2 linked regions of the Homo sapiens genome follow. The protein of the gene in region 1 purifies or fractionates together with the protein of each later gene. This does not show direct contact. Each region holds a gene or a part of one and is shown on either strand. Other genes may lie near its edges.

Region 1 (5,096 bases):
GTTGGGAGCCTACCATGTACCTGATACTGTTCTAGGTACTAAAGAAACCACAAATGAACAAAATAGTCCATCACTGCTCTCAGGGAGCTTATGTTCTAGTGGGGGAAGTGGACAGAAAACAATTACACATCATACTTCACAGACTCTTAAGTTGCCGTCAACTGTAAGTTGTGCTTTCACGTCCCACCAAGAGAGGAAGAAATGCTTAAGATGGATCATCTAATAGACCCCCCATATGCAACTGGGATACCAAAAACCTGCACCTTCAGTGAAAATATAAAGACAAAAATCCCCCACACAGAAAAGGACAGCAAGGAAGCTTGATTGTCTCAAACTTGACACTGTGTCATAGGAGGAAAAAATATCTCCCCTGAGAATAGGAACCACCAGTTGGTATTAGCCAGTGTCTTGTCTAAATTCACTCTGCCAGGAGGATTAAACAAAACCCTAAACAGAGAACTTAATTTCAAGAAGTCTCAGATTGGTAGCATTCCTAAGTACTGGCAGAAGCAAATGCAAATCTCTCGTGGAAAGAGTTGATGTCAATCCAGGCCCACGGCACTTTTAAGATATCATCAATTTTTAAGACATCCTATCTTTCAGTTGTGTTAAAATCTAAAAGCCAGTGTGCATCTTGCAATCAACAAAATATGCTCCATATCATGTCAGGCAGTAATAGGTGCAGTGAAGAAAAATGAAGCTGGGTAAGGGCAGAAACAGTGACAAGGCCAGGAAGGGGCACACATTTTATATACAGACCTCTGAGAAACCTCTCAGCAGAAAACCTGCAGGAAGGAAGTCTTCAGTTAACTAAAGAAGAGTTAATGTCCTAGAAGAGTATTCTAGGCAGAGATTACAGCAAATGCAAAAGCTCTCAAGTGGGAGAGTACTTGGGGTGTTTGAGGACTATCAAGGATTGAAGAGGCTGTTGTGGCTGGAGGGACCAGGGCAGAGTGAGGATTCTGAGAGGTGAGGTCAGAGTGCAAAGGGCCTTAGGGCTGGGCGAGGTGGCTCACGCCTGTAATCCCAGCACTTTGGGAGGCAGAGGCGGGTGGATCATCTGAGGTCAGAAGTTTGAGACCACCCTGGCCAACATGGTGAAACCCCGTCTCTATTAAAAATACAAAAAATTAGCCAGGCATGGTGGTGCACACCTGTAGTCCCAGCTACTCAGGAGGCTGAGGCAAGAGAATTGCTTGAACCAGGGAGGCAGAGTTGCAGTGAGCCGAGATCCGAGATCATGCCACTACACCCCAGCTTGGGCGACAGAGCAAGACTCTGTCTCCAAAAAAAAAAAAAAAAAAAAAGGGCCTTAGAGTTCCAGGTGGCAGGCTTGGTTCCCAGTGCTGTGCATACAGAGGCAGTGAGACCCAGTGCCTGCCACCAAGCTTACTTTCTAGTAGAGGAGGCAGATGATACACAGTGTCAAGAAACAGAAATGGACTATAATTTCTGGGTTGAAGAGCATTAAAATAGACCCACAGCCTAGGCCAGTTTACAGCTTACACTGAATTACCCAAGTGAACCTATAAAGATCAACAGAATCCCACAGCTCTGATTCTTGGAGTGACCTCCTCTTGTCTGTCCTGAGGTAGGTTGGAGTAATTTTGGATATTCCAAAAGATGGCTCTGTTTTATCTGAAGGAGTGATTCTTCTTGTTTATGTTAAAAAAGAAAAGAAACAAACTAATAAACTCTAAAATGAAGCCTCCGTTTCCCCCATGAGGTGTATACTACCATTTTCCAGTCATTTACTCAACCTCTTTGAGGAAATGATGCCCTCAAGCAGGGATTCTCAGACCTTTATACTCTTAAAAATTATTAAGGACCCAAAGAATTTTTGTTTGTGTGGGTTATATCTATCAATATTTACTATATTAGAAATTAAAACAGCCGGGCGCGGTGGCTCATGCCTGTAATCCCAGCACTTTGGGAGGCCAAGGTGGGTGGATCACGAGGTCAGGAGATCGAGACCATCCTGGCTAACATGGTGAAACCACGTCTCTACTAAAAATACAAAAAAATTAGCTGGGTGTGGTGGCCGGCGCCTGTAGTCCCAGCTACTCGGGAGGGTGAGGCAGGAGAACGGAGTGAACCCGGGAGGCGGAGCTTGAGTGAGCTGAGATCGCGCCACTGCACTCCAGCCTGGGCGACAGAGTGAGACTCCGTCTCAAAAAAAAAAAGAAATTAAAACTGAAAAATTAGAATATGGTTATTTGTTCATTTAAAAATAATAACTCATGACATGCTATATATAAAACATGTTTTTACTTAAAAACAACTAATTTTCAAAGCAAAGAATGTAGTACAAAGAGAGACATAAATCTCTTTAATGTTTGGCTTAATAAAAGGCAGTTGGATTCTCAGCTCTGCTTCTGAGTTCATTCTATTGCGGTATCACATGTCATATAGTCTCTGGAAAATTCCACTGCACACTCTTGAGAAAATGAGAATGAAAAAAGGGAAATAACATTTTAGTGTTATTATGAAACAGTTTGAACTTCATAGACTCCCCCGAAGGGCCCCTAGACCATACTTGGATAACTGCCATTCAAAAAAATCCATGTCACCTTTTATCAGCAACAGATTCCCAAAAGGCCTGGGTTATTTTGCTACAACCGTGGCACTAATTTTCTAGTTTTTGTGAGGCCAGGGGAAATGGAAGAGAGCATAAATCATTCCCTTGCATCTTTATAATCAACTATTCATGGCTGAGCACGGTGGCTCACGCCTGTAATCCTAGTACTTTGGGAGGCCGAGGCAGGCAGATCACCTGAGGTCGGGAGTTCAAGACCAGCCTGACCAACAACATGGAGAAACACTGTCTCTACTAAAAATACAAAATTAGCCGGGTGTCGTGGCACATGCCTGTGATCCCAGCTACTCGGGAGGCTGAGGCAGGAGAATTGCTTGAGGTTGTGGTGAGATGCATCACTGGTGCACTCTGCCAAAAAACAAACAACTATTCACATAGCTGTGTTTGAAGCCATTGGGATTGTTGATTAATGTGCTTTAAAAAGGAGAGAAAGTGATGACCCCTAGCACTGAACGGGGACAGGGTATGAAACGGATCTGCTGAAAGACTGCCTCAGGGATAACTGCAGAGAGGGTTGCCTTGATCATCATTTTGTACTTTGTTTTGGTGCCCAGTCTCCCTTAGGCAGACCTCCTCCTTTTGCTTCTAGCCAGTGGCTTTGTGTGTAGAACTGAACTGAGATTCTACCAATTCCTCGGTTAAAATTCTGTGGGCCCTGTGGGCCGCAGAGTGAGGAATAACATTGGAACTCACAGAAGCCGAGGGCAGGATGGTGGTTAATAGGTGTTGGGGCCAGGGGGTGGGATGGGGAGATGTTGGTCAAGTGGTATAAGGTGTTAGAAGGAGGAACAAGTTCTGGAGATCTTTGTACAACATGGTGACAATAGTTAATAACAATGTATACTTGAAAATTGCTAAGACAGTAGATTTTAAATGTTCTCACCACAAAAAGGAGTATGTGAGGGGATGGATATGTTAATTAGCTCAATTTAATCATTTTACAATGTGTACATATATCAAAACAGCACATTGTACACCATAAATATATACACTTTGTCAACTAAAATAAATAAATAAAAGAAACAACAATGACAAAAAAAAAAAAAAAAAAAAAAAACCAGACCAGCAGTCCATCTCAGATGATGGAGCTGTGTGTTTTCCATGGTTCTCCTAGCCTTTGACCTGGCCTTGTTAGTCTTTGTTTTCACACTGTCAACACTTTACTGTGGACCAATTCAGCCCTGGGCAGTGGTCGGCTAAGGTGACAGTAGAGCTAAATAAATGCCAGGGGCAGGTGGGGCAGGGGGTATCTCGAATGTTGTTTTATTTCAAAGTTTCTCCAGGATGATTGAGTCTTTTCAAAGAGTCCTTGAATTAACATGCTCTCTTCCTCTGAGAGGCCACAGATGGTATCTCCAGTGAGTAAGGATGCCACGGAAGATCTGCGGAAAGCAACTGGTCCTTTGGAGGCTCAGGCCTTGGTGAAACAGGATTTGCTGCCTGCAGACCAGGCCCAGGTCCTCAATGAGGTAGGGGGCAGATTCTGGCTCTTTCTTATGAAAGGAGGCACCAGAATGTGGACACATAGTGGTTGGGTTGGAATTAGAAAGCACTGCGAGGGTGGCTCCCGGAATTCTCTCTTTGCCCTCTAATTTAGGGCATCTTGGTCTTCATTATTTTTTGGAGAATGATTATTTGTATCTTCCACAGGGCCCATCATTGTACTGGCACCCAGTAGGCACCGATTCAGAAAACGAAGTGTTAGAGTGAATGTTCATGTGTTCTCTAAAATCCTCTTCATTGAGGAGCCTGAAGTCATTGGACTATTTTGCTCTTACTTTTCTTGTGGTAGATCTATTTAGTATTTATGATAAAGATTCCACAGAAGCTTTTTTTTTTTTTTTTTTTTGAGACAGGGTCTCCCTCTGTCGCCCAGGCTGGAGTGCAGTGGCACGATCTTGGCTCACTGCAACCTCCACCTCCTGGGTTCAAGTGATTGTCCCACCTCGCCTCCCGAGTAGCTGGGATTACAGGCACATGCCACCACACCCGGCTAATTTTTGTATTTTTAGTAGAGGCAGGGCTTCACCATATTGGTCAGGCTAATCTCGAACTCCTGACCTCAGGTGATCCACCCGCCTTGACCTCCCAAAGTGCTATGATTACAGATGTGAGCCACTGTGCCTGGCCTTGATTTTTTTTTTTTTTTTTTTTTTTTGAGACAAAGGTCTCACTCTGTCACCCGGCTTCAGTGCGATGGTGCAGTCATGGCTCACTGCAGCCTCAAAATCCTGGGCTCGAGTGATCCTCCTGCCTCAGCCTTCCAAGTAGCTGTATGGAAGTGATGGTGTAGTGGTGCCCCTGCCATGGAGGGATGGGGGCGGGATGGGGTTGTTTCTATCATTTATTAGCATATGTGTTAGAATAATGGTTGGTATTAGTGTCAATGAAGACACCACCAGGCGTTATAATTAGATTTGTATAATACTTTACAGTTTACAAGCATTTGTATCTGTAACACTTCATTTACTCCTGAGAACAACCTTGTCAGATAGGTGCC
Region 2 (5,096 bases), on another chromosome or scaffold:
CACACAACACACACATTTGGATTACAGCCAGGTGTTGGTCCAGGAGCTGTATAATACAACTCTAATAATTATACAGGCGATTTGTTGCAATGACTATATTCAGTGTAGTAAATTTTTGCAATTTTCTTAGGATGTAAAACTGATGTGATATTATGGTGTATATTAAGGAGGAACAGTTAATAGGCACTAACCTAACAAGTTAGCAATTTAGACCAATTCAAGACATGTATAGGAGGCTGAGGAGATTTTATTTTGCTGTAGGTAGCTGTAGGCTTTTGATCATGACAAAAAATTAAAACTATTAGGATGGGTCCTTGCTAGGAGAGATGGGAGGTGTTGAGACCAGTTAGAGGGCCCTTAAAGTGTTCTGGAAGCAAGGTAATGATGACCTTGAGAGTGGAAAGGAGAAGACAGTCAAATAATGTTTTGGAGATAAAATATATAGAACTGTGGAGGCCAGGTGCGGTGGCTTACACTGGTAATCCCAGCACTTTGGGAGGCCGAGGCGGGTGGATCACCAGAGGTCAGGAGTTCAAGACTAGCCTGGCCAACATTGTGAAACCCCGTCTCTACTAAAAATACAACAATTAGCTGGGTGTGGTGGCGGGCATCTGTAATCCCAGCTATTCAGGAGGCTGAGGCAGGAGAATTGCTTGAACCCGGGAGGCGGAGGTTGCAGTGGGCTGAGATGGCACCAGTGCATTCCAACCTGGGTGACAGAGCGAGCTCCATCTAAAAAATAAATTAATTAATTAAATTAAATAACAGAAATTTATTCTCTCACAGTTCTGGAGGCTAGAAGTCTGAAATCAGGATGTCAACAGGGTTTGTTCCTTCTTGGAGGCTCAGAGGGAGAAATCTGTTTTATGTTTCTCTGCTAGCTTCTGGTGGTTGCCAGCAATCCTTGTCATTCCTTGGCTTGTAGACGTATTACTCCAGTCTCTGCCTCTGTTGTCCTCACATGTCGTCTTCCCTCTGTGTGCGTCCTTATCGGATTAAAGGCCCACCCTGTCCAGTATGATCTCATCTGAACTTATTACATCTGCAGTGACTCTGTTTTCAAATAAGGTCACATTTAGAGGTTTTGGGAAGGATATGAATTTTGAGGGGGACACCATTCAACCCAGTGCAGAAGGCTAGAGTTAGAAATATAGGATTCATTTGCACAGTGTGGATCTGGAATGCTGAAGGGAATGTGAGCTCACTGAAGGAGCGAATTAATGACAAAAGAAGTATGAGCTGACACAGGGTAGATGAGACACAAAAAACATTTAATATAAAAATAGGTAGATATAGATAAGGAGGCCTTTAGAAATGTGGGCTGAAGTATAGTTATTGAGTGGAACAACAGCTGGACCTGAAAGGGTAGGAATGGTAGGAAAGCTTTAGATAGGTAGAGCTAGGAAGAAACCCCTAGAAGCAGGGAGATTAATAGCTTGAGCAAAGGTGATGACCTATTTGGAGGTTAATGGGGTTGGAGCCGAAGGTGGGGGTCAACCAGGTGTATGGACCATCTTGACTGTATTAAGCAAAACATCACTTTTATTACGGGAGGTTTCAGCTTATACAAATGTAGGAGGAATATAATGAACCCCTGAGTACTTGTCGTTATTTTAGTAGCTGCTCTTTTTTTTCTATAAATTCTCCTCCTCTTCTCTCCGTCCCTTATTTTGAAGCAAATTTCAGACATTTTAGATTGTGCATTTTTGACTAGCCTGTATAACTGAGGGGTTTCTGAGAAGGTTTCTGAGCAGGTAAGGGATGTGATCAAAAGAAATGCAAAGACATAAGATTTTATTAGGAAAGCAATGAAAAGTAGAAGAGGGAGAGGGTTTAGTACATAATTGATTGTTTTCATCTTTTGTTATTTGATTAAAGGTGTGCAGGATTTCTGTTCCAGAAAGTTGGAAAACTTGCAGCAACTGCAGTAGGTGGTGGCTTTCTTCTTCTTCAGGTATGTCAGAGCTTTAAGCACTTGCCTTTGCTTTCATAGAAGGTGGAATTTTTCTTTTAGGCATCAGTTTATGGAAGAGCTACAATGAGTTTTGGAAGCTGACTTTTGTCTTGAAAGATAACAATTTAAATACTTCTGAGTTATTAAGCATAGTTTGATCCCAGCTATTAAAAAGACAGCCATTACCGAGCGCATTGGCTCACGCCTGTAATCCCAGCACTTTGGGAGGCAGAGGCAGGCAGATCCCTTGAGGTCAGATGTTCAAGACCAGCCTGGCCAACATGGTGAAATCCCGTCTCTACTGAAAATACAAAAATTAGCTGCCATGGTGGTGCACGCCTGTAGTAGTCCCAGCTACTTGGGAGGCTGAGACAGGAGAATTGCTTGAACCCAGGAAGCGGAGGTTGCAGTGAGCCGAGATCGTGCCATTGCACTCCCGCCTGGGCAACAAGAGCAAAACTCTGTCTCCAAACAAAACAAAACAAAACAAAAATCCATAATCTTATATCTGAGGCAGATAGATTTGAAGTTTTAGTTTTGTTCATATTCTTGTAAGTATAAGATCTAAAAATGCTTTGCCATTAGAGGATGTTTATCAGGGCATCATCTGGCATTCATGTCTGTTTGGCATGTATTTTTTCAAAAATATCATTCCTTGAAGATCAAATATAGTAAATCCAAAAATTGAAAATCTCTACGAATGAATGTGAGCAGCACTTTTAAAGATACAGAGAACTGTCACTTGTACTAGATTTTAAAAATGATTGATGTTCATAGCCACCAGAATCTGAATTCAGCACCTAAGCCATCGATCATGTAATAACTAGTGTAGTTGTAGTACAAGGGGACTAGATTTGTATGTATGAAGCACAGATTTTGAGTTGTTCACTAAACAGCCTTTTAAAAATATATATGTTTTCTTTCTTTTGGTGACATTATTACGAATAATTGCTTATTACTTGTGGTAAGAGGTAAAAAAAATGATTAATACCTAAATTTAGTTCTTTGGATGAATATGCCAGCATTAGTACAGATGATAATTTTACTTAAGCTGATTTTGACTTGGTTTTATATGGAATCAAGAGCATATTTTATTCCATAGCTATTTTGAAGACTCAGTTGTCATTTCTGTTAGTGTAAAAGGGTACTGGACTGAAGCAGAGTTTCCTAAAATGTTCACAGAATGGAGAGAAGTGTATATTTTAATCCACTCTGCATGTCAGTTTTTCAGAAGTCCATTTCAGTTCACTCAATATGCACCATTCAAATCCACATTTTGTCATTGCCACCTCCCACTTTTCCGCATTTAGTACACGTAGTCTTTGAAGTTTTTAAGGCAGAGCAACATAGGACCTATCTGCATCAAACCAGTTTTTCCCACAAATACGACTAACCTTGAAAACTCAGTAGAAGGAAAGTGAAAGGGGAAATAAAGTAACAAATGGCTTTTAGGCTAATTGCCTAATATTCTTTAGGCCCACTTTCATATTTTTATGACCTTTCTTATATTTAAAGGTAAATATTAGTTTATTTAGAACTTAAAGCTTTTCTAGTAACAATATCAAGTGTTTTCCAATAGATATTTATTACACTGCCATCTTAAAGTACACAGTCTCTTCGTTTTAATTTTTTGGAGTTATACATCCTTATAATTCAAAGGGCCAAGTACTTGTGCAAGGCTTGTTACAGATTAGAGTAATCCTCCACCTCTCTCACTACCCCCATTTTTCCATCCCTTGAGACATCCAGTTTGCACTCTTAACTGATTCTTAAGGTAGTAATCTCTTTTTCCCTAAACAAGTTAATTGGACATTTCTTGATCTTTCAGTTTTAGGTGTGAACTATTGGCTTCCCATTATGGAATGGGAAAATTTAGCTGTCATTTATTGACCTGTTTTGTTTTCCCTATACTTCCCCAAATCTCACATACCTGAATGCTTTCTTCCCTCTCCCTCAATCGTCTGAGTGTAGTTACTTCCCTTTTTTCATAATTGTGTTAGATCATTCATTATATGGAGTTCACTGAGATTGATTACTTGGAGTTCACTGAACTTCTTGAGCCTGTGAATTTATGTCTTTAATCATGTTTGGGAAGGTTTTGGCCATTATTTCTACTAGGAAGTTTGGGATTTTTTTTTTTTTTTTTTCGAGACAGAGTCTCGCTCTGTCGCCCAGGCTAGAGTGCAGTGGCGCAATCTTGGCTCACTGCAACTTCCACCTCCCGGATTCAAGTGATTTTCCTGCCTCAGCCTCCCAAGTAGCTGGGATTATAGACTACAGCTGCCTGCCACAGCACCCCGCTAATTTTTGTATTTTTAGTAGAGATGGGGTTTCACCATCTTGGCCAGGCTGGTCTAGAACTCTTGACCTATTGATCCACCCGCCTCGGCCTCCCAAAGTGCTGGGATTACAGGATTACAGGCGTGAGCCACCACGGGCGGCCGGGATTATTTCTTTTCTTCTTCTTTTTTTTTTTTTTTAGACAAGAGTTTTGCTCATGTTGCCTAGGTTGGAGTGCAATGGCACAATCTCGGCTCACTGCAACCTCCGCCTCCTGGGTTCAAGCGATTCTCTTTCCTCAGCCTCCGAAGTAGCTGGGATTACAGGCACCTGCCACCATGCCTGGCTAATTTTTGTATTTTTAGTAGAGATGGGGTTTCACCATGTTGGCCAGGCTGGTCTCGAACTCCTGACCTCAGGCGATCCACCCGCCTTGGCCTCCCAAAGTGCTGGGATTACAGGCGTGAGCCACCGCGCCCAGCCAGGATTCTTTCTTTTTTTTTTTTTTTTTTTTTTTGAGACAGAGTCTTGCTCTGTCACCCAGGCTGGAGTGCAGTGGTGCGATCTCAGCTCACTGCAAGCTCCGCCTCCCAGGGTCACGCCACTCTCCTGCCTCGGCCTCTCAAGTAGCTGGGACAACAGGCGCCCGCCACCAAGCCCGGCTAACTTTTTTGTATTTTTTTGGTAGAGACAGGGTTTTGCTCTGTTAGCCAGGATGATCTCGATCTCCTGACCTCATGATCTGCCCGCCTCGGCCTCCCAAAGTTCTGGGATTACAGGTGTGAGCCACCGCACCTGGCCCAGTATTATTTCTTTAGACAACTACTAGTTGTGTAAATCACCTTTCATTGTCGTATGTATC

The links. The genes of interacting proteins can lie anywhere in the genome.
Region 2: the proteins of TMED8 (region 1) and FUNDC1 purify together in Homo sapiens (affinity purification with mass spectrometry; one large-scale study listed by BioGRID and IntAct). This does not show direct contact.

Annotation. Positions count from the first base shown.
Region 1 is NC_000014.9:77,345,318-77,350,413, reverse strand, and holds part of TMED8 (protein TMED8), read left to right. Parts: intron 1-3,933; exon of another isoform or gene 3,934-3,935; coding exon 3,936-4,065; intron 4,066-5,096.
Region 2 is NC_000023.11:44,535,325-44,540,420, reverse strand, and holds part of FUNDC1 (FUN14 domain-containing protein 1), read left to right. Parts: intron 1-1,878; coding exon 1,879-1,954; intron 1,955-5,096. UniProt on the Homo sapiens protein: Integral mitochondrial outer-membrane protein that mediates the formation of mitochondria-associated endoplasmic reticulum membranes (MAMs).